Linked DNA regions of Homo sapiens: region 2 is linked to region 1. Evidence: fine-mapped expression QTL. A gene starts in region 1. The other region holds a variant in brackets. All regions are shown on one strand. Distances are from middle to middle. Region 1 holds the start of CC2D1A (coiled-coil and C2 domain containing 1A). Region 2 overlaps CC2D1A (coiled-coil and C2 domain containing 1A).

The links. PIP is the estimated chance that this variant, and not a neighbour inherited with it, causes the effect. A credible set is the group of variants that fine-mapping cannot tell apart.
Region 2: its variant is the best candidate, but not a certain one, in a credible set for the expression of CC2D1A in whole blood (INTERVAL, PIP 0.86).

What each region holds. Positions count from the first base shown.
Region 1 is chr19:13,898,369-13,912,845 of GRCh38, reverse strand. It overlaps CC2D1A (coiled-coil and C2 domain containing 1A), which reads right to left and starts at 6,645. Exons shown (of 29, transcript NM_017721.5): 1 at 6,345-6,645; 2 at 2,888-3,023; 3 at 408-523; 4 at 253-318. The coding sequence starts at 6,404. BRME1 (break repair meiotic recombinase recruitment factor 1) reads left to right here and starts at 6,729. Exons shown (of 9, transcript NM_001345843.2): 1 at 6,729-7,131; 2 at 7,933-7,984. The coding sequence starts at 7,954. RefSeq lists a silencer at 6,271-6,330.
Region 2 is chr19:13,922,555-13,937,031 of GRCh38, reverse strand. CC2D1A (coiled-coil and C2 domain containing 1A) reads right to left here. Exons shown (of 29, transcript NM_017721.5): 15 at 13,577-13,699; 16 at 13,426-13,484; 17 at 13,221-13,337; 18 at 10,442-10,515; 19 at 10,307-10,365; 20 at 10,160-10,211; 21 at 9,955-10,054; 22 at 9,767-9,857; 23 at 9,002-9,139; 24 at 8,844-8,908; 25 at 7,590-7,653; 26 at 7,372-7,498; 27 at 6,878-6,954; 28 at 6,743-6,790; 1 more. The coding sequence ends at 6,637. It overlaps PODNL1 (podocan like 1), which reads left to right. Exons shown (of 10, transcript NM_001370095.3): 3 at 572-665; 4 at 988-1,052; 5 at 1,202-1,311; 6 at 2,622-2,778; 7 at 3,039-3,154; 8 at 3,577-4,234; 9 at 4,920-5,068; 10 at 5,145-5,845. The coding sequence ends at 5,295. Among named protein-coding and RNA genes, the nearest start is that of PODNL1, 8.6 kb to the left of the region's middle. RefSeq lists an enhancer at 95-852. The variant C/T (reference allele first, on the strand shown) is at 6,949.

The sequences.
Region 1 (14,477 bases):
ACCATCTCTACCAAAAAATACAAAAATTAGCCAGGCGTGGTGGCACACACCTGTAATCCCAGCTACTGGGGAGGCTGAGGTGGGAGGATCCCTTGAACCTGGGAGGCAGAGGTTGTAGTGAGCTGAGATGGCACCACTGCACTCCAGCCTGGGTGACACAGCAAGACTCCATCTCATAAAAAAGGCTAGGTCTTGAACCCCGGGCTGTCCGTTGGGTTGTGGTTCAAGGGAGTGGAGTCATCCAAACTGTACCTGGGCCACAGGAGGTGGGGTCTCTGAAGCCTTCTGCTCCTCTCCAAGGACCTCATTTAGCTCCGCCTGCAGGGACACACAGCCAGGGCAGGATATAAGGGCCTGCTGGATGGGGGCAACCGGATCAGAGCCCCCACCCCGCCCTCAGTGCTCACCAGCAGGTCATCATCAGCCTCCAAGTCGTCCTCATCCGTCCCCTCCTCCTCATCCTCATCCGGGTCTCTCATGCACAGGCTGGCCATCTTCTCAATGGCCTCCATCGGCAAGGGACCTGGCGGTAGGGGGATGCCCCAGGTGGACCAGGGTCGTACACCAAGAGCCCCCATTTCCCATCCTGGACACGCTAGGTGATCCCACTTCTCGCTGACTTCCCCATTTCATCTCTTCCTTATTCAGCCTCAGGTCTGGGGCCTGGCTACCTGAATTCAAAACCCAGCTCTGCAGACCGGGCACAGTGACTCACGCCTATAATCCCAGCACTTTGGGAGGCCGAGGCAGAAGGATCACTTGAAGTCAGGCGTTCAAGACCAGCCTGGCCAACATGGTGAAACCCTGTCTCTACTAAAAATACAAAAATTAGGCTGGGCGCAGTGGCTCACGCCTGTAACCCCAGCACTTTGGGAGGCCGAGGCGGGTGGATCACAAGGTCAGGAGATCGAGACCATCCTGGCTAACACGGTGAAACCCCGTCTCTACTACAAATACAAAAAATTAGCCAGGCATGCTGGCGGGCGCCTGTGGTCCCAGCTACTCGGGAGCCTGAGGCAGGGGAATGGCGTGAACCTAGGAGGCGGAGCTTGCGGTGAGCCAAGATCGCGCCACTGTACTCCAGCCTGGGCGACAGAGCGAGACTCCGTCTCAAAAAAAAAAAAAAAAAAAAAAAAAAATTAGCTGGGCATGGTGGCGTGTAATCCCCGCTGCTAAAGAGGCTGAGGCAGGAGAATCACTTAAGCCCAGGAGGCAGAGGTCGCAGTGAGCTGAGATTGCGCCACTGCACTGCAGCCTGGGCAACAGAGCAAGGGTTTGTCTCCAAAAAAAAAAAAAAAAACACACACACACAACAACAACAAAAAAAACCCCAGCTCTGCAACTTTCTCTCTGTGAGAACTTCGGCAAGTGATGTCACCTCTCTGAGCCTCAGTTTCTCCCTCTGTGACACGGGGATGACAACAGTTCCTCCTTCATAGGTAGGTTGGAGCAGAGAAGGTCAATGAAGCTCTTAGAATAGCATATTGCCAATATCTTGTTATTAGTTATGTTACATTCTATAAAGCTGCTTTGAAGACTAAATTAATGACTATAAGACTGTTGCTCCTAGGGGAAATTTAAGCTTAGGTTCCTGTGAATCTCCAGTCATAACCTTTTTTGGAGACAGGATCTTGCTCTGTCACCCAGGCTGGAGTGCAGTGGCCCAATCAGAGCTCACTGCAGCCTCAAACTCTTGGCCTCAAGTGATCTTCCTGCCTCAGCCTCCCGAGTAGCTGGGATTACAGGCATGCACCACCACACCCAGCTCTGGTCACAAAATTTTAATCAACTGATCAATACACAACCTTGCTCTATGTGTGTTTCTGTTTGAAGACACCTTCCTGAATAGATATCGTTCATTCATTAACTTTGAATTCACAGCCAACAGCACAGTAGTTCATGCCTGAATGAAGCTTCTCTCTTTTTTGTTTTTTGGAAACAGGATCTTGCTCTGTCACCCAGGCTGGAGTGCAGTGGCGCAATCTCTGCCCACTGCAACTGCTGCCTCCTGGATTCAAGCGATTCTCATGCCTCAGCCTCCCAAGTAGCTGGGATTACAGGTGTTCGCCACCAAGCTTGGCTAATTTTTGTATTTTTAGTAAAGACAGGGTTTCACCATGTTGGCCAGGCTGGTCTCGAACTCCTGGCCCCAAGTGATCTGTCCACCTTGGCCTCCCAGAGTGCTGGGATTACATGCATGAGCCAATGTGCCTGGCTGACATGAGCTTATTGTGTGTGAGGGGGCCCTGGGTGAAATACTTATGGACTCCAGATTAACTCCTATAACATGGTTATTATTCCAGTTTTACAGATGGTGAAACTGAGGCCAAAGCACATGATGTGACTCATCAAGTCACATAACCAGTAAGTGGCAGAGCTCGGATTCCAACTCTCAGTCTCGGTCCAGACTTGATCTTTTTTTTTTTTTTTTTTTTTTTGAGACGGAGTCTTGCTCTGTCGCCCAGGCTGTAGCGCAGTGGTGCGATCTCGGCTCACTGCAAGCTCCGCCTCCCTGGTTCACGCCATTCTTCTGCCTCAGCCTCCTGAGTAGCTGGGACTACAGGCGCCCGCCACCACGCCCGGCTAATTTTTTTTTTTTTTTTGTATTTTTAGTAGAGACAGAGTTTCACCGTGTTAGCCGGGATGGTCTCAATCTCCTGACCTCATGATCTGCCTGCCTCGGCCTCCCAAAGTGCTGGGATTACAGGCGTGAGCCACCGTGCCCGGCCTCAGAGTCGATCTTGACTCTCTTACCCAGATCATTGGCTCCAGGAGAACAGGGGTCTTCTCTGTCTTCTTTCCCCTACCTACCCAGTGCCCCCAGTTCTGCGCCCGAACCACTTGCAGGAGATCAGAAAATGTTCTGAGGGTGTGTTAACCATCTCACCTTTGCCTTTGAGCTTCTCCAGGGCTGGGGGCTGGCCCCCGACCAAAGCCAAGAACTCAGCCTCCAGTTCTTCATCGTTAGCCCCGTCCTCAGGGATCATCAGGCCATCTGGGGAGAGGTCAACCAGCAGGCCCAGCTAGGGGAACAGCAAGGGTTCAGTCAGACCTTTGGTTCACCACATGGCTAGAGGCAGCCATGATGGCCAGAGAGTCCCCTTGGGAGGAAGGAAACAAGGTCTCCCAGGGAAAGCCATTTCCCTGGGGAGTGCCAGGAGGCTGGAACAAGCCCAGAACAGGTGTTCCAAGATAGGCCAGGCCCTCTGGCACAGTTCAACCTGGGGCAAAGGGCAAGAGACCCAGCTCTCTGATCTGAATCCACACTTATGATGTGCTGCTGGGCCAAGTTCAGTGGGAAAAGCAGGCCCCTGGCTGGGCGCAGTGGCTCACGCCTGTCATCCCAGCACTTTGGGAGGCCAAGGCAAGAGGATGGCTTGTGTCTGGGAGTTCCAGACCAGCCTGGGCAATACAGTGAGACCCCCAACTCTACAAAAAAAAAAAAAGTTTTTTGTTTTTTGTTTTTTTTTGACACAGAGTCTCGCTCTGTCACCCAGGCTGGAGTGCAGTGGTGCAGTCTCAGCTCACTGCAACCTCCGCCTCCGGGGTTCATGCCATTCTCCTGCCTCAACATCCCGAGTAGCTGGGACTACAGGCGCCCGCCACCACGCCCGGCTAATTTTTTTTTTGTATTTTTAGCAGAGACGGGGTTTCACCTTGTTAGCCAGGATGGTCTCGATCTCCTGACCTCATGATCTGCCCGCCTCGGCCTCCCAAAGTGCTGGGATTACAGGAAAAAAAACTTTTTAAAATTAGCTGGGAGTTGTGCTGTGTGCCTGTGGTCCCAGCTACTCGGGAGGCTGAGGCAGGAGGATCACTTGAGCCTGGGGAGATCAAGGCTGCAGTGAGCCATGACTGTGCTACGGCACTCCGCCTGGGCAACAGAGTAAAGCCCTGTTGAAAGGAAAGAAAGAAAGAGAGATGGAGCCGGGGAGGGAGAGAGGGAGGGAGGAAGGAGGGAAGGAAGGAAAAAAAGAAGGAAGCGAGGGAGGGAGGGAAGGAGGGAAGGAAGCAGGCTCCACACTTTGCCCAAAGCAAAGCTACTCTGTACACTTGGGCTTTTCTTTCCAGCATCCTCAGCAGAGGGGCTGTGTGGGAAGGTTGGGCTTCAAGAGCATGATGGCTGCATGCGGTGGCTCACGCCTGTAATCCAGGAGTTCGAGACCAGCCTAGCCAACATGGTGAAACCCCGTCTCTACTAAAAATACAAAAATTAGCTGGGAGTGCTGGCGGTGTCTGCAATCCCAGCTACTCGGGAGGCTGAGGCAGGAGAATTGCTTGAACCTGGGAGGTGGAGGTTGCAGTGAGCTGAGATTGCGCCACCAAACTCCAGCCTGGGCAACAGAGCAAGACTCTGTCTCCAAAAAAAAAAGAAGAGCAATTAGAAGCCCTGACGACAGGGCCAGGTGCAGTGGCTCACGCTTGTAATCCCAGCACTTTGGGAGACCAAGGTGGGGGGATCACCTGAGGTCAGCAGTTCGAGACTAGCCTGGCCAACATGGTGAAATCCCATCACTACTAAAAATACAAAAATTAGGCCGGGCACGGTGGCTCACGCCTGTAACCCCAGCACTTTGGGAGGCCGAGGCAGGCGGGTCACCTGAGATGGGGAGTTCGAGACAGACCAGCCTGACCAACAGGGAGAAACCCCGTCTCTACTAAAAAATACAAAATTAACCAGGCATGGTGGCGCATGCCTGTAATCCCAGCTACTCGGGAGGCTGAGGCAGGAGAATCGCTTGAACCCGGGAAGCGGAGGTTGCAGTGGGCCGAGATTGCGCCACTGCACTCCAGCCTGGGGCGAGAGAGCAAGACTCTGTCTCAAAAACAAACAAACAAAAAAAGAACCCCTAACCACAATGCAGGTTTGCCATGCAGACCCGTCTTCCTATCTTGGCTAATGACCAATCATGATGTGATAACATCGTGTTTAACCATATGAAATTGCCTTTCCTGTAGGTAAAAAATGGCCAAATATTGGCAATTATGTATGGTTCCACCAACTAGTAATAATGATAATAGTAACATTTATTGAGTGCTATGTTCTAGCACTTTCCATAAACTATCTCAATGACTCTCTACAACTGTCCTGTAATGTAGGGTCTCTTGGAGGTCTCCATTTTTAATTTTTTATTTATTTATTTATTTTCAGAAGGAATTTATTTATTTATTTTGAGAAGGAGCCTTGCTCTGTCACCCAGTCTGGAATGCAGTGGCGCGATCTCAGCTCACTGCAACCTCCGCCTCTCGGTTCAAGCGATTCTCCCACCTCAGCCTCCCGAGTAGCTGGGATTACAGGTGCCCGCCACCATGCCCAGCTAATTTTTGTATTTTTAGTAGAGATGGGGTTTCGCCATGGCCTCCCAAAGTGCTGGGATTACAGGTGTGAGACACCACCCCGGACTTCCATTTTTAATTTTTTATCTTTATTTTAGAGAAAGAGTCTTGTTCTGTCACCCAGGCTGGAGCAGAAGTAGCGCAATCATAGCTCACTGCGGTCTTGAACTCCTGGGCTCAAGCAATCCTCCCTTCTTAGCCTCCCAAGTAGTAGTACTACAGGCACATGCCACCATGCCCAGTTAGTCTTTTTTTGTCGAGACGGGGGTCTTGCTTTTGCCCAGGCTGGTCTCAAACTCTGGCCTCAAATGACTCTCCCACCTCTGCCTCCGCCTCCATCTCCTGAAGTGCTGGGATTATAGAGATCTCCATTTTACAGATGAGAAAGCTGAGGCTCAGAGCTGTAAAGTCAAGTGTCCGATGTACAGAGGCCAGGAGGGAACTTCAGGTCAGCCAGACTCTAATATCTGAACACCAAGCTATGTCCTGGGCTCCTTCCATCAAAACTGAGAAAAATCAAACTATCTGGTGCCTGGGGCAAAGAAGTCGGGAGAGTGAGAAGGGGTCCAGCCACAGTGCCATAAGCTTATGGCTGCAGCCCTGGATTTGTGCTTAGCCCTGGCCAAGCTGTTAATCCCTATGACCTTGGGCAGATGTCTTCACGTCTCTGAGTCTCAAAGTCCTCATCTGTACAATGGAATAAAAAGAGTCTGACATGGCCCGACTGATGCAAGGGTTTGATGTGTCAAGTCCGAGGACTGCCCCTCCTCGACTGGAGCAGCTGTGGCAACAGGTGGCCCCGAACCCGGGGCAGGGCCCCAGGAGCTGGGGAGCCAAGGCCAGTAGGCCACACTTGGGTGGTGTTGGAGCCTCACCTGGGGGGAGGCGGGGACCGGGGCTTACCTGTGGGGCGGAGATCGGGCTTCCCTGGGGGGTGGGGCCCTTCCCTGAGCGAGTGACGGGGGTGGGGAGGGATCCCCAGGTCGGGCCGTGGGGCGCAAACTCACCTGGCGGGCGGCCGCGGCGCCTCTGCCCGGGGGTCCCGGGGGTCCTTTCCTCTTGTGCATCTTCAAGGCTGGATGCCCGGACCACCTGCCCCCAAGCCCGGCCTTGCCCTGCCTCCTTCCCCGGGCTCTGTCGCCGCGCACTCGCCCTTCCTGAGTCCTGCACTCCTCGTCGGCGCCCCGCGGCCGTCGATCCCGAGCCCTCGCTTCCCTGCTTGGCCGTCCCACTTCCGCCTCGGGCCTCGGGCGCCGCCGCACCGGAGCGCGGCCACTGGGCTCGCCGGGTCTGCCGAGCCGAAACTACAACTCCCGGCAGGTAGTGCGTGGGCGCGCAGGCGCCTGGCTGGGGCGGTGCTGACTGTCGCGGGCTGCGAGGGCGGTGTTTGCGTCGCTCATGCGCGGGGCGGGACCTCGCGGGGCGCGGGAAAGAGGCAGAGCGCGCGCAGGTGTGAGGGGCGGCGACATCTGTGGGGTTCAGAGCGTCTGTCAGTCACCGACGGGCTCCGGCTTCACGTGGGCTCTCGGCCTGTGGAGTCCTCACTTCTCGGTGGTCGGCGTAGTGTCAGTGTGGGGCTTGTCACCGGGAGCGGGGTCTACAGCGCCCACCCTCAGGCCTTTCCATCTTTCACCTCCGGACTCGAGGCCTCCAGCGTTCTGTGAGGGCCAATTTGGCCATTTATTTTTTCCAAAAAGAGTAACGCGGATAATTCAAGCGACTTATTCCCAACTGATCCAGGCAGAGCTCGTTTCTGATAAGGACAGAGGGTCCTCAACGACTTCTGTGGCCCAGGTCCGTTCTGGTTTGCCTCGCCCCCAAGGCTGGGAGAAACCGGCCTATGGCAGCTCTTTCCCCTCCAAGGACCCAGCTGTCCCCTTTAAAGTGGCACGATCTTGGCTCATTGCAACCTCTGCCTCCTGGCCTTGTACCACAGCCTCCTGAGTAGCTGGGATTACGGGTGTGTGCCACCGCACCTGACTAATTTTTTTTTTTTTTTTTGAGACGGAGTCTCGCTCTGTCGCCCAGGCTGGAGTGCAGTAGAGCGATCTCGGCTCACTGCAACCTCTGCCTCATGGGTTCAAGGAATTCTACTGTCTCAGCCTCCCAAGTAGCTGGGATTACAGGTGTGCGTCACGATGCCCAGGCTAATTTTTGTGTTTTTAATAGAGAGGGGGTTTCACCATATTGGCCAGGCTGGTCTCCAGAGGCCCCTGGAGAGTCCTCAAGTGTCCTTGGAAGGGCCCCCAGATACCCCAGTCTGGAGGGAGGGGCTTCACACAGGCTGTTTCATCCTAGGGACCAGAGTCTGGGTCCCCGGGGCTATCTATAAGGACCCCCCAGGGCCCATTTGTCTTTCAGGTCCTGGGCATAAGATCTTCAGTTTGGAGGAGGTTTGAATTCCTACCTGGCCATGGCCCAAAGTGGCTGTGACTCTGTGTCCCATCCTGTGTCCCAGTGGGAGCCATCTGACCCCTGGGGCAGCCAAATGGGCTGAGGTGGAGGTAGGGGTAACCTCTGCTCTCAGCCAAAGCCACTGGATATAAACAGAGACAGAGACTGCTTATAATGATGAGAGATTTTGCTTGTTTTCAGATTTCTCAAGGGGAAGATAAAATGACTAAGAGGAAGAAGCTGCGGACCTCAGGTACGTTCATTCAAATGGACACTTGTTGATTTCTGCTTCTGCTTGTGGGAAGAATGTGGGCTTGTTTATTGCAGATCTGGCTAACACGACTGCCTTAACCTCCTTAAAAGGAAGCAAGGATTGGCCGGGTGCGGTGGCTCACACCTGTAATCTCAGCACTTTGGGAGGCCGAGGCGGGCAGATCACAAGGTCAGGAGTTCAAGACCAGCCTGACCAACATGGTGAAACCCCGTCTCTACTAAAAATACAAAAATTAGCCAGGTGTTGTGGCACATGCCTGTAGTCCCACCTACTCGGGAGACTGAGGCAGGAGAATCGTTTGAACCTGGGAGTCCGATGTTGCAGTGAGCCAAGATGGTGCCACTGCACTCTAGCCTGGGCAACAGAGCAAGACTCTGTCTCAAAAAAAAGAAAAAGACAAAAAGGATTTAATTCATGCTGGTAAGAAAAATAGAAGGCCGGTGTGGTGGCTCACGCCTGTAATCCTAGCACTTTGGGAGGCCGAGGTGGGCGGATCGCTTGAGTCCAGGAGTTCAAGACCAGCCTGGGCAACATAGCGAGATCCTGTCTCTACAATGTAAAGTAAGGAAATTAGCTGGGCGTGGTGGCAGGCACCTGTAGTCCCAGCTACTCAGGAGGTTGAGGCAGGAAGATTGCTTGAACTGGGAGGTGGAGGTTGCAGTGAATCCAGATCGTACCACTGCACTCCATCCTGACTGATAGATTGAGGCCCTGTCTCAAAAAAAAAAAGAAAGAAAGAAAAATAGAAATAACGGAGAGGGCATACAGGAAAAGTAAAAGTGAAAGTTTTCTGGAGCTTCTGCAAGCCTCTGGTGGGGTCCCACAGCTTAGAGGAGGCCTCCCCGGGCTTCAGGGCAGCGGGACAGCCTCCCTGCGGAACCAGTCCCAGAGATGACCCCTGGAATAATGCTTGATGTACTACAAGGCCACTCGGTATGTGGCTGAGTGTTTTACTCTGGGGCCCAAAACCTGGGTTCATCCCAGTTCTGCTCAGTGTGTGGTGGTGGATGATTTCCTCTGTGCCACAGTTTCCCCTTTTGTAAATTGGGGATAATAAAAGCCACTACCCTTTCCTTTAGAGCAGTGTTTCTCAACTAGGTGAGAGGAAGGGATTTTGACCTCCAGAGACAGCTGGCAATGTTTGGAGACTTTATTTTTTTTTTTTTTGGAGACCAAGTCTGACTCTGTCGTCCAGGCTGGAGTGCAGTAGCAAGATCTTGGCTCACTGCAGCCTCCACCTCCTGGGTTCAAGCGATTCTGCAGCCTCAGCCTCCTAAGTAGCTGGGACTACAGATGTGCACCACCACGCCCGCCTAATTTTTGTATTTTTAGTAGGGATAGGGTTTCACAATGTTGGCCAGGCTGGTCTCAAACTCCTGACCTCAGGTGATCTGCCTGCCTCAGCCTCCCAAAGTGCTGGGATTACAGGTGGGAGCCACCGTGCCCGGCCTAGAGACTTTTTTTGGTTTTCATAACTGGGGAAATTATACTGACATCTAGTGGGTGGAGGCCAGGGATGCTGCTCAAATATCCTACCATGCATAGGATGCCCCCCAGCCACAGAGAATGATCCAGCCCCAAATGTCCTCCAAGGTGAAGAATCCTGCCCTTAGAGCTCACATGTGGATTAGTATCTGTAAAGCACCCAGAACTGACCTAAGGTAGTACACAAATGTACACTGCTGTTAACAATTCTTCTTCCAGACTTTTAAGAAAACTTTTATTTTGAAGTAATCTGGGACTTAAAGAAAAGTTGCAAAAATAATTCAGAGAGTTCTAGCTACCCTTCTCCAAGCTTTCCCTAATGTTGACATCTAGCATAGCCATAGGACAGTGATCAACTGTAGAACAGCATGAAAAACAGGACAGGACTCTAACCTCGGTACACTGCTTCTAGACTTTTTTTTTTTTTTTTGAGACGGAGTTTCGCTCTTGTTGCCCAGGCTGGAGTGCAGTGGCGCGATCTCGGCTTACTGCAACCTCCACCTCCCAAGTTCAGGCGATTCTCCTGCCTCAGCCTCCCAAGTAGCTGGGATTACAGGCACCCACCACCATGCTGAGCTAATTTTTGTATTTTTTTAGTAGAGTCAGGGTTTGGTCAGGCTGGTCTTGAACTCCCAACCTCAGGTGATCTGCCCGTCTTGGTGTCCCAAAGTGCTGGGGATACAGGAGTAGGCCACCGCGCCCAGCCCAGACTTTTTTGTTTTTGTTTTTGAGACAGAGTCTTGATCTTGTTGCCCAGGCTGGCGCGATCTCGGCTCACCGCAACCTCTGCCTCCTAGATTCAAGCAATTCTCCTGCCTCAGCCTCCCAAGTAACTGAGATTACAGGCATATGCCACCATGCCCAGCTAATTTTTTTGTATTTTTAGTAGAGATGGGGTTTCTCCATGTTGGTCAGGCTGGTCTCGAACTCCCAACCTCAGGTGATCCGCCCATCTCGGCCTCCCAAAGTGCTGGGATTACAGGCATGAGCCAGCGCGCCCAGCTCAGACTTTTTTTTAAGATGATGTCTCACTCTGTTGCCCAGACTGGAGTGCAGTGGCACGATCTTGACTCACTGCAGCCTCCGCCTCCTGGTTTCAAGCGATTCTCTTGCATCAGCCTCCTGAGTAGCTGGGATTACAGGTGTCTGCCACCACGCTCAGATAATTTTTGTATTTGTAGTAGAGATGGGGTTTCACCATGTTGCCCAGGCTGATCTTGAACTCCTGGCCTCACATGATCTGCCCGCCTCAGCCAAAGTGCTGGGATTACTGGAGTGAGCCACCATACCCAGCTTTTTTTTTTTTCTTTTTTTCGAGACAGAGTCTTGCTTTGTCGCCCAGGCTGGAGAGCAGTGGCACAATCATAGCTCGCTGCAGCCTCGACCTCCCCAGGCTCAGGTGATCTTCCCACCTCAGCCTCCGGAATAGCTGGGACTACAGGTGTGTGCCACCATGACTGGCTAATTTTTGTATTTTTTGGAAGAGACGAGGCCTCACTATGTTGCCCAGGCTGGTCTTGAACTTCTGGGCTCCAGCAGTCCACCTGCCTTGGCCTCCCAATGTGCTCAGAATTACAGGCATGAGCCACCATGCCTGGTCAGACTTTTTCTGTATATATACAGATACAGTGTTGAGCTTTTTTCTTTTTTTTTTTTTTGGAGACAGTCTCACTCTGTCACCCAGGCTGGAGTGCAGTGGCACGATTTTGGTTCACTGTAACCTCTGCCTCCTGGGTTCAAGTGATGCTCATGCCTCAGCCTCCTGAGTAGCTGGGATTACAGGTACCTGCCACCATGCCTGGCAAATTTTTGCATTTTTAGTAGAGACGGGGTTTCACCATGTTGGCTAGGCTGCTCTCTAACTCCTGACTTCAAGTTATCCGCCTGCCTCAGCCTCCCAAAGATTACAGGCATGAGCCACCGTGCCTGGCCCAGATAAAATGTTTTTATTGGAAAATCGAATCATCACACTTACTGATCTGCAACCTCCATTTTTCACTTTGTGGTAGATCATGACCATGTTTACTTGTCAACATACCTATACAATTTCATCATTTGAAAAGAAAAACACCCCAAAATAGCCAGGCTTGGTGGTACGCACCTGTACTCCAGGCTACTTGGGAGGCCGAGGTGAAAGGATTGCCTGAGACCAGGAGTTCATGACCAGCCTGAGCAACATAATGTTACCCAGTCTCTAAAAAAAAAAAAAAATTTTAATTAACCAGTGTGGTGGTGCCTACCTGTAGTCCTGGCTACTTGGGAGATTGAGGCAGGAGGATGGCTTGAGCTGAGGAGTTCCAGGCTGCAGTGAGCTATGATTGCGCCTGCACTCCAGCCTGGGCCACAGAACAAAACCCTGTCTCTTAGAAAAAAAGAAAGATTGTTGGGCACGATGGCTCATGCCTGTAATCTGAGCACTTTGGGAGGCCGAGGCAGGTGGATGGATCATTTGAGGTCAGGGTTCGAGACCAACCTGGTCAACATGGTGAAACCCCATCTGTACTAAAAACACAAAAATTAGCCGGGCATGGTGGCATGTGTCTGTAATCCCAGCTACTTGGGAGGCTGAGACACGAGACTCGCTTGAGCCCAGGAGAGCTGAGATTGCACCACTGCACTCCAGCCTGGGCGACAGAGTGAGACTCTGTCTAAAAAAAAAAAGGAACAAACCAAGTCAGAAAGACAAACTCCCAATATGATGTAGTAGAGTTCCATTTGCCTATCATTTTCTAAAGTAAGTTAAATTTCTTCAAAATTTTGAAATGACTTTTTAATTTAGTGGCTGATGAATTTAGGGAATGGTGTGCATGTTTTTTCCCCCAAGATATGGGACAGGAGAGGAAATGATCAGCAGATTGAACATGTTTTGTGCAGAGATGAGCAACAGGCTGCTTGGAGGCATCAGAATTTCTCTGACCTTGGAGGGGGAAGCTGGGGACAGCCAGGTCCACCCACAGCAGGTCACTTGGGGCCTCTGTTGGCGGTAGACTCCCCAGCTCAGTGGACCTCTGGGCTGGCCCTGGACAACCCTTTCTGTGTGTGCTGGAAGGGTGGAGAGAGAGGAAGAAAATTCTGGCAGGTGGTGAAAGAGGCCTTTTCCCTCCCAATGTCTTTAGTCTTTGGTGTCGAACACAAGGTTCTGCCTTATTTTTTCTTAAATTAGTCCCATGTGGACAGATCACAGGAAGGAAAGAGAAGACTCTTCAATGCCATTGATATTTTTTTGCTTTTTATTTGGTACAAATGGCCATTCAGTCAGCCAAGTGAGCAAGTGTTTGAGAATCTCAAGAAACCAAATAAACAAAGCAGCTATATTTTGTCTTTTCTGGCAGACCACAAGGTCGTGTTTCTTTTGAGACAGAGTCTTGCTCTGTCACCCAGGCTGGAGTGCAGTGGTGCAGTCTTGGCTTACTGCAACCTCCGCCGCCTGGGTTCAAGTGATTCTCCTGCCTCAGCCTCCTGATTAGCTGGGACTACAGGTGCCCACCACCACACCTGGCTAATTTTTTGTATTTGTAGTAGAGACAGGGTTTCACCATGTTGGCCAGGCTGGTCTTGAACTCCTGACCTCAAGCAATCTGCCCACCTCACCCTCTCAACGTGGTGAGATTACAGGCATGAGCCACTGCACCCGGACGGTTAGGAATGTGTTTCTATAAGCAATGTCCATCGGAGCTTTACTTGTGGTGGTACATCCTTTGAGGTGGGCACCTGATGGGGCAGGGCAGGGCGAAGGGGAGATCAAAGGGTGCATTGCACTCAGTTCCTGCCCTGGAGATCCTCCAGCTGTAGTCAGAGGACAAAGGAAAATGCTTCTCTCAGCGAGAGCTAAGCAAATACACAGCAGTGGGATAAAGTTCTAAACGGGCACTCCCGAACTGTAACTGACAGAATTACAAGCAACTTACCGTGCGCCATGGCTCACACCTGCATTCCCAGCACTTTGGGAGGCCAAGGCAGACAGATCACTTGAGATCAGGAGTTCAAAACCAGTGTGGCCAACGTGGTGAAAACCCGTCTCTACTGAAAATACAAAAAAATTAACCAGGCATGGTGGCTTGCACCTGTAGTCGCAGCCAATCAGGAGGCTGAGGCAGGAGAATTGCTTGAACCCAGGAGGCAGAGGTTACAGTGAGCTGAGATCATGCCACTGTACTCTAGCCTGGGCAACAGAGCGAGAGTCCATCTCAAAAAAAAAAAAAAAGAAGAAGAAGAAGAATTAGAAGCAATTACAGGAAGATTGCTGTGGTTTAGTGGAGGGCAAACAGCTGAATGGGGACTGATGCAGACCCTAGCAATTGGCGTCGAGGAAAGAGAGACTCATTCAGTAGGTTTACTTCACGATGTGTAAGTGTGTAATGTAGAGCTGAGGTTGGAAAGAGTCCATCTGGGGTTTGGATAGTGTTATTCTTTTTTTTTTTTTTTTTTTTTTGAGATGGAGTTTCACTCTTGTTGCCCAGGCTGGAGTGCAATGACGCGATATCGGCTCACTGCAACCTCCGCCTCCCGGGTTCAAGCGATTCTCCTGCCTCAGCCTCCTGAGTAGCTGAGATTACAGGCATGAGCCACCATGCCCGGCTAATTTTGTATTTTTAGTAGAGACAGGGTTTCTCCATGTTGGTCAGGCTGGTCTTAAACTCCCGACCTCAGGGGATCCGCCCGCCTCAGCCTCCCAAAGTGCTGGGATTACAGGCATGAACCACTGCGCCTGGTCCTGGATAGTGTTATTCTTTAGTGTTTTTTTTAGAGATAGGATCTAGCTCTGTTGCTGAGGCCAGAGTGCAGTGGCACAATCACGGCTTGCTGCAGCTTCAACCTCCAGGGCTCAAGCAATCCTCCTGCCTCAGCCTCCTGAGTAGCTGAGACTACAGGTGCATGCCACCACCCTCAGCTAATTTTTAAATGTTTTATAGAGGTGGGATCTCACTGTGTTACCCAAGTGAGATCCTGGACTCAAGTGATCCTACCCCCTCAGCCTCCTGAGTAG
Region 2 (14,477 bases), 24 kb before region 1:
GGTGATGGCGCATTTGGGGTCGATTGTGGGGGTGTTGTGGCATGTGGGGTTGATTGCGGGGGTGATGGCGCATTTGGGGTCGATTGTGGGGGTGTTGTGGCATGTGGGGTTGATTGCGGGGGTGATGGCGCATTTGGGGTCGATTGTGGGGGTGTTGGGGCATTTGGGGTCGATTGTGGGGGTGATGGTGCATTTGGGGGTGATTGTGGGGGTGATGGCACATTTGGGGTTGATTGTGGGGGTGTTGAGGAATTTGGGGTCGATTGTGGGGGTGATGGTGCATTTGGGGTCGGTTGTGGGGGTGATGGCACATTTGGGTTGATTGTGGGGGTGTTGGGGGAATTGGGGTCGATTGTGGGGGTGATGGCACATTTGGGGTCGATTGTGGGGGTTTGGGGTTTGACATCTTGGCAGTTATAAGACTGGGTCAGAGTGATGGGGTGTTTGGGATTAACTGTGGGGGTGATGATGGTATGGGGCTGGTTTGGGCTGATGGGAAGTTGAGAATCAGTGCTTGGGGTCACTTGGTCACGGGGTCACGGGTGTGAACACCCCAACTCTCACCCTGCAGAACAACCAGCTCCAGGAACTCCCCTACAATGAGCTGTCCCGCCTCAGTGGCCTGCGAACCCTCAACCTCCACAACAACCTCATCTCCTCCGAAGGTGAGGGGGCAGAGGGAGGCGGCCTCTCTGGGGCTGTAGGACTGACCGAGGTCTCAGCTGCCATCCCCCTCCCCCGCCCCATCTGCGGGCAGCTCTGTGGCAGTTCCCAGAACTGCCCTTTGCTGAGCAGGATGGAAACTCAGGAGCTGGGGTGGGGGTTGGGGGCTGTGGCTTTTGAGTAGGGATGGGGAGGAGGGGATCTGAGGGCCTGGGGAGCCTCTGCCAGTTCCCCGGCCGAGAGTCCTGGGGCAGCTGGGAGCCCAGACTCCCCCTCCACCCAAGACAGGCCTGGGGTCCCTTCACTGCCCCCCTACTCTCCCAGGCCTGCCTGACGAGGCCTTCGAGTCCCTCACCCAGCTGCAGCACCTCTGCGTGGCTCACAACAAGGTGAGCCCCCAGCCCCACCCGCAGGCCGAGCCCAGTGAGGGTGCAGCTTCAGTCACTCAGCCCAGGGTGTGGAGGGGACAGCTCTGCTGGGGAAGTGGTGGGGCCAAGGCGCACCAGGACCAGTCCGGCTGTGGGCTGTGTCCCCACAGCTCTCAGTGGCCCCTCAGTTTCTGCCCCGGTCCCTCCGTGTCGCGGATCTGGCTGCCAACCAAGTGATGGAGATCTTCCCCCTCACCTTTGGGGAGAAGCCGGCACTCAGGTAGACCCTGGCCCAGCCCAGGCCCCCAGGCCTCAGATACATCTGTGTCATGCCCCGGTTCTAGGAGCAATGAGGGAGTTAAGACCTTGCCCTCGGCCGGGTGCAGTGGCTCACTCCTGTAATCCTAGCACTTTGGGAGGCCAAGGTGGGAGGATCATCTGGGGTCAGGAGTTCGAGACCAGCCTGGCCAACATGATGAAACCCTGTCTCTACTTAAAATACAAAAATTAGCTGGGGGTGGTGGTGTGCGCCTGTAATCCCCGCCACTCAGGAGGCTGAGGCAGGAGACTGGCTTGAACCCAGGAGGTGGAGTTTGCAGTGAGACGAAATCGTGCCACCGCACTCAAGCCTGGGCGACAGAGTGAGACTCTGTCTCAAAATTAAAAACAAAAACAGAAACAAAATGCCTTGCCCTGGAGGGCTTAACCAGGGACAGATCCCTAGCCTTGGGGAGTGGGAAGAGGGCATAGTTCTACCCTGGGAGGAGAGTGAGCGGGGAGACAGGGCCCTGTATGCTGTGTCAGAACTCCAGACTGAGGTGGAGACAGTATGTGCAGGGACACACACACACACACACTTACACAGACTCACATACACACCTGCACACACAACCACATGAACACATGCTCATGCACACACAATCACATGCACACACAAGCACACACACAGACTCACATACACACCTGCACACACTTCCAACCACATGCACACAGGCACACACTCATGCATGCACACGCAATCACATGCACACACAAGCACACACATGCACATATGTACACAATGCTCACACTTTTGCACATGATCACATGCACACATGGACATACATGCATACACACAGTTGCACACTCGGCTGCACACACACAATCACATGCACACTTATGCACAGGCATGCACACATGCACACCCACACTTACAATCACATGCACACACTCACCCATGCACACTTATGCACAGGCACATAGCACACACTTGCATATACATACACACATGCACGCCCACACACTCTTACAATCACATACACACGTGCACACACACTCCACATATGCACTCATTACACTTACACATGCACACTGCTCACACATGCACACACGTCTATTCATACAACACACATGCACACTCACCTGCACACCTACGCACAGTCACATGCACACATACACAATTACATTCCCACACAGACTCCACACATGCGCGCGCACACACACACACACACACACACACACACTGAAGGCGACCCTGAGCAGGGTGTGGTGCGGGAGTGGGGTGGTAGGAGGCGAGGGGCAGGCTGGTGGCCGGAGCCTGGCTCTCCTCAGGTCCGTGTACCTCCACAACAACCAGCTGAGCAACGCTGGCCTGCCCCCCGACGCCTTCCGCGGCTCCGAGGCCATCGCCACCCTCAGCCTCTCCAACAACCAGCTCAGCTACCTGCCGCCCAGCCTGCCGCCCTCACTCGAGCGGCTCCACCTGCAGGTAGCCCTGCTGTAGGTCCCACCCCGGGCCAGACTCTCTTCACCTCTTTCCAGGGGGACCCCTCCAGTTCCTAGCTTTCCATTCTTCTCAATTGCCCCTCAGAATGCCAGTGGTCAGAGTTATCCTTCTTTGAATCACTTTATTGGAAATCGCTTTGAGCTCAAGGCAAGCTCCTCGTCACTCCCTTACTCAAGAGCCGTCTGTGGCTTCCCGCTGCCCTCATCCCAGACTCAAGTCTCATTCTCTTCTTCCTTCTCCAGAACAATCTCATCTCCAAGGTGCCCCGAGGAGCCCTGAGCCGCCAGACTCAACTCCGTGAGCTCTACCTCCAGCACAACCAGCTGACAGACAGTGGCCTGGATGCCACCACCTTCAGGTACAGGCTGGTTGGGGGGCAGCAGGGGCTGAGAATTTACAGTCGGGGGTCCCAACCTTCAGTCCCCCTTCCCTGACTGGCTCCTAAGCCACGGCCTCATTTACTGAGTGCCTGCTGCTCACTGGGCTCGGCAGAGCACTGGGTAGGTGTCCCTGTTCCCCACAGCCCTGCACTGACATCGTAAGTCTCACATGCCTTTCCATCTCGGCTCTACCCTGGTCACCCCCATAGCTAACTCTCAGGCTGGAATCTGCCCTGGGCACCCCAAGTTTACCTCCCACCCAGCTCTCTCCACGCATCACTCCCAAGTCAAAATCTCCAGCTTAAATCTGTCTCAGGACCACTCCCCAGCCTCCCCGCCAAAATCTGTCAGGCACCCCACTCCAAGTGCCCCACCTAACACCGACCCTCTCTCCTTCCAGCAAGCTGCATAGCCTTGAATACCTGGATCTCTCCCACAACCAGCTGACCACAGTGCCCGCCGGCCTGCCCCGGACCCTGGCTATCCTGCACCTGGGCCGCAACCGCATCCGGCAGGTGGAGGCGGCTCGGCTGCACGGGGCGCGTGGTCTGCGCTATTTGTTGCTGCAGCACAACCAGCTGGGGAGCTCAGGGCTGCCCGCCGGGGCTCTGCGGCCGCTGCGGGGCCTGCACACGCTGCACCTCTATGGCAATGGGCTGGACCGCGTGCCTCCAGCCCTGCCCCGCCGCCTGCGTGCCCTGGTGCTGCCCCACAACCACGTGGCCGCGCTGGGTGCCCGTGACCTGGTCGCCACACCGGGCCTGACGGAGCTTAACCTGGCCTATAACCGCCTGGCCAGCGCCCGTGTGCACCACCGGGCCTTCCGCCGGTTGCGTGCCCTGCGCAGCCTCGACCTGGCAGGGAATCAGCTAACCCGGCTGCCCATGGGCCTGCCCACTGGCCTGCGCACCCTGCAGCTGCAACGCAACCAGCTGCGGATGCTCGAGCCCGAGCCTCTGGCCGGCCTGGACCAACTGCGGGAGCTCAGCCTGGCGCACAACCGGCTCCGGGTCGGCGACATCGGGCCAGGCACCTGGCATGAGCTCCAAGCCCTCCAGGTCAGGCACAGGCTGGTTAGCCACACTGTCCCCAGGGCCCCTCCATCCCCCTGCCTGCCCTGCCACGTCCCAAACATTCTAGTTAGCTGGTAAAGCAATCAGAACAAGAAAATGATAAGAGTGGGTTAGAAGGTGATGAGGAGGCTGGGTGAGGTGGCTCATGCCTGTAATCCCAGCACTTTGGGGAGCCAAGGCAGGAGAATCGCTTTAGGCTATGGGTTTGAGACCAGCCTGGCAACACAGCAAGACCCTATCTCTACCAAAAAAACATAGCCAAGCGTGGTGGCACATGCCTGTAGTCCCAGCTATTCAGGAGGCTGAGGCAGGAGGATCGCTTGAGCCCAGAAGTTTGAGGCTGCAATGAGCCGTGATCGGGCCACTGCCCTCTAGACTGGGCAACAGAGCAAGACCCTGTCTCTTGAAAAAAAAAGTGATGAAAGAGGTATGGTGCGATTCAATGACTGACTCATTTAATCAAGTGGGGACCTGTCTGTCTGTGCCTTCCTGGGAAGGGCCTTAGTTTACCTCTGCAGAAGGGAGGAATTTGGCAATCATGGGGGGTGGGGGGCAGAAGGGCCAGGCTGGTATGAAGGGGGCAGGGGACTCTCAGAGAGGTTGGGGGCTGGCTGAGCTGAGTGGCCCAGGCCTGGGGCTGCCACGATGCCATCTATAACCCCCTGCCCAGATGCTGGACCTCAGCCACAATGAGCTGTCCTTTGTGCCCCCGGACCTGCCTGAGGCCCTAGAGGAGCTGCACCTCGAGGGCAACCGCATCGGCCACGTGGGCCCCGAGGCCTTCCTCAGCACACCCCGCCTGCGTGCCCTCTTCCTCAGGTGCCCCGAGGGTGACCGGAGGGGTGGAGGTGGGCAGGGGAGGGCCTGGGAGGGTCATGACCGCCTCTCTGTGCAGGGCCAACAGGCTTCACATGACGAGCATCGCGGCTGAGGCCTTCCTGGGGCTCCCAAACCTGCGTGTGGTGGACACGGCAGGGAATCCGGAGCAGGTCCTGATCCGGCTGCCTCCCACCACCCCACGTGGGCCACGGGCAGGGGGCCCCTGATCCTAGAGAGGCCCAGCAGAGCAGCTCAGACTCCTGGGACTCCGCTGGGCCGTGGACTGAGGAGACAACGCCCACCAGGGGCCCTTGGTCTGGCTCTCCTGGGCCTCCAGGGCTGGGCCTGCTCTGCCTGCCACTGGCCGAGACACAGAGGCACACAGCTGGCATACTCCAGGCTCACAGACCACGCCGGCCTGGCGGGACACACCCTACCCCAAACTCCCAACACAGATGGAGGCAGCAACAATAAAGCCAAACCCTTCCAGCACTCAGCACGGACCAGGCACCCTTTGGGGGCTCTGTCCACGGACTCCTCCCCACAACCAGTCCAGCTGGGGAAACTGAGGCTCTGGGATGCTAAGTGGGTCAGGACTGAATTTTGAGGTCTTGAGGCACACACTGGGGTCACCAAACAGCACCCTGTGCGACCTAGCCACGTGTGATTGCAGGGACGCCCAAGGCCACCCACTGAAAAAACACTGGGTGACAGATATAGGGACCCTCACATGTATCCCCCCCCACAGCAAGCATGGGAATGAAATGCATCCTTCAAGCTGGGTGTGTGGTGGTGCCCTTCTGTAATCCGTTAGGAGGCTGAGGCAGGAGGATCATGTGAGCCCAGGAGTCGGAGGCTGCAATGAGCTGATTGTGCCACTGCGCTGCAGCCTGGGTGACAGAGGGAAACCCGGTCTCTAAAAAAAAAAAAAAAAAGCACCTTTCACAAGCACACTGTCCCTCCCCAAAACTGCTTCCCTAACAGGCGCCTCCCCATCCACTTCCAGGGGAACCGGGGGGTGGGTGGGAAGACCTAGCCTGGCCACCGAGGGTCTGAGCAAGAAACAGACAGGACAGAGCTGGGCTGAGTGTGGCCCTGGCTATTTTATTCCATGTGCTGGCCCTGGGGACCCAGCTGGGCCAGGTCGACGCCCCTGGGGAGACAGTGTGGCTCGGCCAGCCTCAGTGGCTTCTTTGGGGTGCAGGAGGGCTTTGGGGTTAAGGCTGGGGAGGAACAGGAAGTAAAGTGCTTGCAGGGGCCCTCGGGGCTTGGCCCCAGCCACCCTCCCTGCTCCGGGGCGGGCCAGAGGCCGGACACCCCTGGGCTGTGCAAACAGGACTCTCCAGGGCCCAGCCAGGCCTGGGTGAGGGGCACATACTGGCTGGCAGGCATGGTTCCCAACACCCGCAGCCACGGAGGCTCTGGCGGGGCTGGGGGCCCGGATGAGGGGTGAGTCCAGAACCGATTGTCCGCTGATTGTCTGCTTGTCTGGTTCGTGGCTGTGTCGGCTCTTCCCGGTATCGGGGCCTGCTGCCCGCTTTCTGGGGGCTGCCCGCCCCATGGGCTCCTCACCTGCGGAGCCGCTGCAGCTGGGGGAGAGGAGGCCACTGGGGTCATGGAGGTGGGCTACGACCACAGTGATCCCCCAACCACCCCATCTCCTAAGCTGCTTACCTCACTCTCTACCAGATTCCGCCTATAGAGCGCCTCCTTTGCAGCATCCTGTGGGGGATGGGCATTCAGCAGGTAGTCCCTGCAGGCCCCACCCTGCCCGCTGCCCAGTGCCCACCCGGCCCGCGACCAGCTCACCCTGCTGCCATCGTTGCCCAGGCGCCGGGCAGCCTCCGTGTAGAACTGCAGCTGCCGCTCCAGCTGGGCTG[C/T]GTATTCTGAGAATGGATGGCGGGGGAATGGAGGCTTAGGGTGGGGCCTCACTGCCCACAACCCTCCTGGACTGTGCCCATCCCCAAGCCCGTCCCCCGCCAGGTGCCCATCCCCGAGCCCCTCCCCCTCCAGGTGCCCATCCCCGAGCCCCTCCCCCTCCAGGTGCCCATCCCCGAGCCCCTCCCCCTCCAGGTGCCCATCCCCGAGCCCCTCCCTCTCCAGATGCCCATCCCCGAGCCCCTCCCCCTCCAGGTGCCCATCCCCGAGCCCCTCCCCCTCCAGGTGCCCATCCCCGAGCCCCTCCCTCTCCAGATGCCCATCCCCGAGCCCCTCCCCCACCAGATATGCATCCCTGAGCACCTCCCCCCCCATGCCTATCCTGGAGCTCCTCCCCCACCAGATGCCCATCTCCAAACCCCTACCCCGTCGGATGCCCACACCCCCCTGCTCCAGCTGTGCCCTCTGCCACTGGCTGCGTTGCATGATGTCCTGGTACTGCTGGGCCACTTCTGGGGGCACCGGCCGCCGCGCCTGCCTGAGGGCCAGGATCTAGAGGATACAGAGGGTCCTGTGAGGATCCTGCCTGGGCCTGCAGACTCCCCAGTCCTGCCCCATGTAGCCCGGCAGGATGGATACCCACCTTCCGCTCCAGACGCTCTTGGTCAAACGCCAGCACACTGAGGCTATGCAGGGGCCGGGCTGATCTAAGGGGTGGAGGAAGGATAAGGGACTGCAGAGATTCCCCCAGCCCAACCCTGTTAATTCAAAAGACACACTGGGCTGGGCACAGTGGCTCACGCCTGTAATCCCTGCACTTTGGGAGGCGGAGGTGAGTGGATCATGAGGTCAGGAGTTCGAGACCAGCCTGGCCAATATGGTGAAACCCCGTCTCTACTAAAAATAGAAAAAAAATTAGCTGGGCATGGTGGTGTGCTCCTGTAGTCCCAGCTACTTGGGAGGCTGAGGCAGAAGAATTGCTTGAACCTGGGAGCTGGAGGTTGCAATGAGCCGAGATCACACCACTGCACTCCAACCTGGGTGACAGAGCAAGATTCTGTCTCAAAAAAAAAAAAAAGCCGAGCATGGTAGCTCATGCCTGTAATCCCAGCACTTTGGGAGGCCGAGGCAGGCAGATCACCTGAGGTCGGGAGTTCGAGACCAGCCTGACCAACATGGAGAAACCCCATCTCTACTAAAAATAGAAAAATTAGCTGGGTGTGGTGGCGCATGCCTGTAATCCCAGCTACTCAGGAGGCTGAGGCAGGAGAATCGCTTGAACCCCAGAGGCGGAGGTTGCTGTGAGCTGAGATCGCGCCATTGCACTCTAGCCTGGGCGACAGAGCTAGACTCTGTCTCAAAAAAAAAAAAAAAAAAAAAAGACACACTGGGCACTGGGGGTATGGTGGGAGACAGCCGAGAACCACCCGGTGTTACTGATCCCAAAACCTAGCGGGGATGATGGCTGCACACCCAGGAAACTATGATGCCTAGTGGTCAGGGAGGGCTTCCTGGAGGAGGTAACAGCCAAGTTGGGATCCAAAGAAGGAATCAGAGGTGGGCAGAGGAACAAGGAACACCCCTACCCTAGGTAGGGGTGTTCAGGGCACTGGAACCCACAGAAGTCCAGAGGCCAGTGAAAACTATTCATGGACATGAACCACAGGAGGGAGTAGGGAGAGAGAAGCCTGGATATGTTGACAATGGTCAGATCACAAAAGGTTTTAAAGACCAAACCAAGGAGTTTAAACTGGATCCTCTGGGAAAAGGGGTGCCAAGAAAGGTTTTGCAGCAGGAGAGGGACGTGGTCCAATTTGTGCCTGGTGGGAAACTGTCCAGGTGGGGCTGAGAGGGGAATTGGGTGTTTTCTCCAGCATGCCCTGGCCCAGATACCTACCTGTTCCCTGACTCCCTTGCAGGGGCAGGCACAGGAGGGGCCTTCCCTTTGGGCCCAGCAACCTGCTTCAGAGGAGAGAACCAGTCCTGTGAGTCCTGGGCCCCTGAACCAAGCTTCCCTCCCTGGGGTTGCTGATGGGTGGGGGTGGGGGGTCTCACTGTGGGCACAGCTGCCGGCACAGGGTCAATGACCAGCCACCTCTCTGTCGTCGTCTCCAACTGCTGGGCTGTCAGTGGCTCCCGAATCCGGACCATTACCTCCAGTCGCCCCCCTGTGGGCCGGCGACCATCCAGGACCTGGGTGGGGGTAAGGAGAAACTGTTGGTGGGAAGCAGGAAGTGACTAGAGGCCCAGGGCCAGGACAAGGGAGAACAAGACTGGTTTTTTTTTTTGGTTTTTTTTTTTTCTGAGATAGAGTCTCGCTCTGTTGTCCAGGCTGGAGTGCAGTGGTGCAATCTGGGCTCACTGCAAGCTCCGCCTCCTGGGTTTACTTACGCCATTCTCCTGCCTCAGCCTCCCGAGTAGCTGGGACTACAGGCGCCCGCCACCATGCCTGGCTAATTTTTTTGTATTTTAGTAGAAACAGGGTTTCACCATGTTAGCCAGGATGGTCTCGATCTCCTGACCTCGTGATCTGCCCGCCTCAGCCTCCCAAAGTGCTGGGATTACAGGCATGAGCCACCATGCCTGGCCAAGAGTGGTTTCTAAAATATGAGCCCATGGTATGGCTGAGATACCAGTTGATCATAATGGAGTGGGGTACTGCAAGTATTTAGGGCTGGGCAGTAGGGAGGTCTGAGGCTCTGAGGGGAGGGGCTGGGTCAACAGACAGGCTCATAGAGGGCTCAAGGCAGGAAGTGTTTTAATAATGTTAACGAGTAGCATGGCCATACCGGAGCACGCGGATGAATGTCCACCTCTCACCTCAAGGATCTCCCGGACCTCACATGCTATCTCCAGTGCATCCAGCTTCAGCTGGGCTGTCCCCAGCACCCGGTCAGTCTTGAACAGCCCCCTGTGTGCATGTGTGTATAGTGGGGACAGGATGGTTGGTTCAGAGGAGCTCCCCTCCCCTGGAGCCCACCCAGCGGCCATGGCTCTCTCTAGCTCACCCCTTGTGAACCACTTCGAACTTGATGCCCTTGGTCTGGATGGCCCTTCGGAAGCCACGGTGGCTGCGGTTGATGCAGAGTTTGAACTGCTCCTTGAACTCTGCAGGAGGAAGGAGGGAGAGGAAGTTGGGTGGGGTCAGGCCATTGTCTTATGTCCCTTCTGCTGCAAGGGAGTAGGGGTAGGGTGCTTCCAGCCGAGGCTCACCAGGGGAGTCTGTGTTCTTGATCACACTGGTCTTGTCTTTCTGAGCTTCTTCCTATGACCAGAGAGGAGGCAGGAAATCTAGGGGGCCTGGGACCTGGCTTTGGCCCACTGAGGCTGCAGCCCTCCCCTCCTCAGCTCCCCACGTACCACGTTGGGATAGGGGAAGTCAAACCGAACAAAGACATCCAGATCGCCAGGGGACAGTCCTGTGGGCAAACAACGGTCAGAGCTGGGCAGAGAGGGGGTCCCCATGACCCTGACCCTTGCCTACAGCCCCCTCACCTGGGGGTGTGGGCAAGTTGATGCCCTTCACGATGAAGAGGAGCATGTCGTTGCTGCTGAGGTCAGGGAAGATCCTTCCGGGTGGGCAGGTGGGCAGGCAGGTGGGCAGGGAAACAGAGGCACCTCAGTCCCACTGCCCGCCTGCCTTCTCTTCCCCCAGTGGGGGCAGGGAACAAACCCCACCCTGGCCTTCGGGGGTGTCTCAGCTCCTGGGCTCATTTTAGAATCAGACAGACTAGAGTTCTCTGTTCAGGTTGGCAATGGATCACTTTCGAGTCTTTTCTTCAGTCTGTGTATATTTATTTGGTATCTACTGTGTGCTAGGTACCCTAGCTGCTGGGTGATATTCCCTTCACTTAACAGTTGTTGAGTCCTACTAAGCATCAGCCAGTGCCCTAGCTGCTGGGAGATCTTTCCTTCATTTCCCAATGTTTCTTGAGCACCTACTATGTGCCAGCCAGTACCCCAGCTGCTGGGGGACCTTCTTTTCACTTAATATATATGTGTGTGTGTGTGTGTGTGTGTATATATACATATATATACGTGTATATATATATATATACACATATATATACGTATATATATATATACACACATATATGTATATATATATACACATATATATACGTGTATATATATATATATATATATATATATTTTTTTTTTTTTTTTAGACAGAGTCTTGCTCTGTCGCCCAGGCTGGAGTACAATGGTACGACCTCAGCCCACTGCAACCTCCACCTCCCAGATTCAAGAGATTCTTCTGCCTCAGCCTCCTGAGTAGCTGGGATTACAGCTGCCCGCCACCACTGCTGGATAATTTTTATATTTTTAGTAGAGATGGGGTTTCACCATGTTGGCCAGGCTGGTCTCGAACTCCCGACCTCAAATGATCCGCCTGCCTTGGCCTCCCAGCCTGGCCTCACTTAATATTTTTTGAGTCCTATTAAAGCACCAGCTAGTGTCCTAGTTGCTGGGGGACCTTCTATTCATTTCACAATATTTCTTTTTTTTTTGAGACAGTCTCACTCTGTCGCCCAGGCTGGAGTGCAGTGCGATCTCTGCTCACTGCAAGCTCTGCCTCCCAGGTTCATGCCATTCTCCTGCCTCAGCCTCCTAAGAAGGTGGGACTATGGGCGCCTACCACCACGCCCGGATAATTTTGTGTATTTTTAGTAGAGACGGGATTTCACCATGTTAGCCAGAATGGTCTCGATCTCCTGACCTCGTGATCCACCCACCTCAGCCTCCCAAAGTGCTGGGATTACAGGCGTGAGCCAGCACGCCTGGCCTCATTTCACAATATTTCTTGAGCACCTACTATGTGCCAGTCAGTACCCTAGCTGCTGGGGATCTAGAAGTAAATACCCATACCCTGTGCTCAATCTAGCTGAGTGGACAGATGAGCATAAGTACATAAATAGAAAAACAATAAAAAACTCAGCAGAGAGGGGAGAGTGGAGTGTGCTCAGAAGAGACTGCTCGGATAGATAGGGAGGGCCTCTTAGAGGGAAGGTGACATCATAGGTGACTCTAGATGTCAAGAGGGAGCTGCCACATGGAGACCTGAGGAAGAGGGTGAAGGCGGAAGAAATAGCTGATGCAGAGGCTTGGGGTAGGAACACACTTTGTTTGTAGGAGGGACCAAAAAGAGTCCCTTGTGGCCAAAGCTGAGTGAAGCGGGGACAGGAGGCAGAGAAGAGGTGACAAGGAGCCAGGCTGTGTGGAGATGGGGGAGCCAGGGTAAGGGGTGGGGGTTATCCCAAGGGCAGCTGGGAACCACCGGAGGGCTAGTGGCTGCACCTAACCTCATTTAGAAAGTGGAGAAAATGGGCCGGACGCAGTGGCTCACTCCTGTAACCCCAGAATTTTGGGAGGCCAAGGCAGGCGGATCATTTAAGGAGACCAGCCTGGCCAACTGAATGAAACCCCGTCTCTACTAAAAATACAAAAATTAGCTGGGCATGGTGGTGGGCACCTGTAGTCCCAGCTATTTGGGAGGCTGAGGCAGGAGAATTGCTTGAACCTGGGAGGCAGAGGTTGAAGTGAGCTGAGATTGCGCCACTGTACTCCCGCCTGGGTGACAAAGTGAGACTGTCTCAGAAAAAAAATTTTAAAAAAGGCCGGGAGTGGTGGCTCACGCCTGTAATCCCAGCACTTTGGGAGGCCGAGGTGGGCGGATCACGAGGTCAAGAGATCGAGACCATCCTGGCTAACACGGTGAAATCCCGTCTCTACTAAAAATACAAAAAATTAGCCAGGCGTGGTGGTGGGCGGCTGTAGTCCCAGCTTCTCGGGAGGCTGAGGCAGGAGAATGGCATGAATCCAGGAGGTGGAGCTTGCAGTGAGCAGAGATCACACCCCTGCACTCCAGCCTGGGCAACAGAGTGAGACTCTGTCTCAAAATAAAAATAAAAATAAAGTGGAGAAAACAATCCCCGCTCCTCTGGGCATGGGAAGACTTGATAGTACCAAGACTAACACCCACCAAAGCCGTGACTCATCTCTGGTCCCCCGTGGACTCACCCAGGCCCTGGGACAAGATACACCTTTGCACTCTCTAGATCTTTCCCAAATGCGTCACTGTGACTGCACCCTCACCATCCTTCACTTGTATCTCATGCCTGCCCCAGAGCCTTTGCATGCTCTGTGCTCTTCCACCTATCCAAAATTTCTTCCAGATGTAAATCTTGTGCCAGCTTCTGGGGAGCACAACCCGCCCCACCGCCACCAAAGGGCCACTGGGGCCACGTGGTGGGGCGTAGATCAGGAGCCTTACTTGATGACGCTGAAGGTCCTTTGCTCAAAGCGGGCGGTGGGCGTGGGGAGACCCCGGACGAAGGCTTGCTTCAGAATGTCCATGCTCCGCTTACAGTCCTCCGCCAACTTTTCAAACCTGCCGGTGGGAGGGCCCTGCTCATGTCCCTGGCCCTGGGGATGGGTGGCTGGGGGTGCAAGTGTCTGGCACAGGTCAGGGCACTTACTTGGTGGTTTCAGTGATGTTGCCCAGCTGGGTGAATTGGTTTGAGTGGTTCAGGCACATCTGGGGAAACAGAAGGCAGTGAGTCGAGGGAAGGGAAGAGAGGGGAAGGAGGGTCACGCTCCTGGGGGATGGGCTGGGGGCCTCCCCCTCACCTCGTGCTGCTGCCGTATGAGCTTGGTGAGTTCACCATAGCGCCGGGCGGCCTCCTGAGACAGACCCGGGCCAGGCCGCTGGACCAGGGCAAAGTCGTCCTTGTTGACAGGGGCAGGCGGCACCTGGGGAGGACGAGGCTGGTGGCGGGGGTAAGGAGGACAAGCAGGCCCACCTAGGGCTCTGCAGAAATGTCATTCTTCCTTGACGAGGGGCATTCCCTGACCACGGCTCTGTCACCCTTCTCTGGTCTTTTTTTTTTTTTGAGATGGAGTCTCGCTCTGTTGCCCAGGCTGGAGTGCAATGGCGGGATCTCAGCTCACTGCAACTTCCACCTCCCGGGTTCAAGTGATTCTCCTGCCTCAGCCTCCTGAGTAGCTGGAATTACAGGCGCCTGCCACCACACCTGGCTAATTTTTGTATTTTTAGTAGAGACAGGGTTTCACCATGTTGGCCAGACTGGTCTCGAACTCCTGACCTCAAGTGATCCGCTGGCCTTGGCCTCCTTAATTGCTAGGATTACAGGCATGAAAGACCATGCCCGGCCTCTGTTCTTTCTTCTTGATCCTTCCATTGTCCCATTTAACAAGGGCATCCTTCAGTCACCCCAGAAATCATGTATGGTGCCGGGTGCAGTGGCTCATGTCTATAATCCCAGAACTTTGGGAGGCTAAGGCGGGTGGATTGCTTGAGCTCAAGAGTTTGAGAAATCATGTATGGAGCCCCTACTGTGCGCTAGGCTCTGCTTTGGGGCTGGGGACACAAGGATGAAGAAGAGAGAACAAAATCCCTGCCCTCGTGGGGCTGACATTCTCTTGGGGGAGATGGGCAATAATCAGAAGAAATAAGTAAATCATATGAGAGAGTAGAAGGTGATACATGCCACAGGGAGAGGCAGAGCTG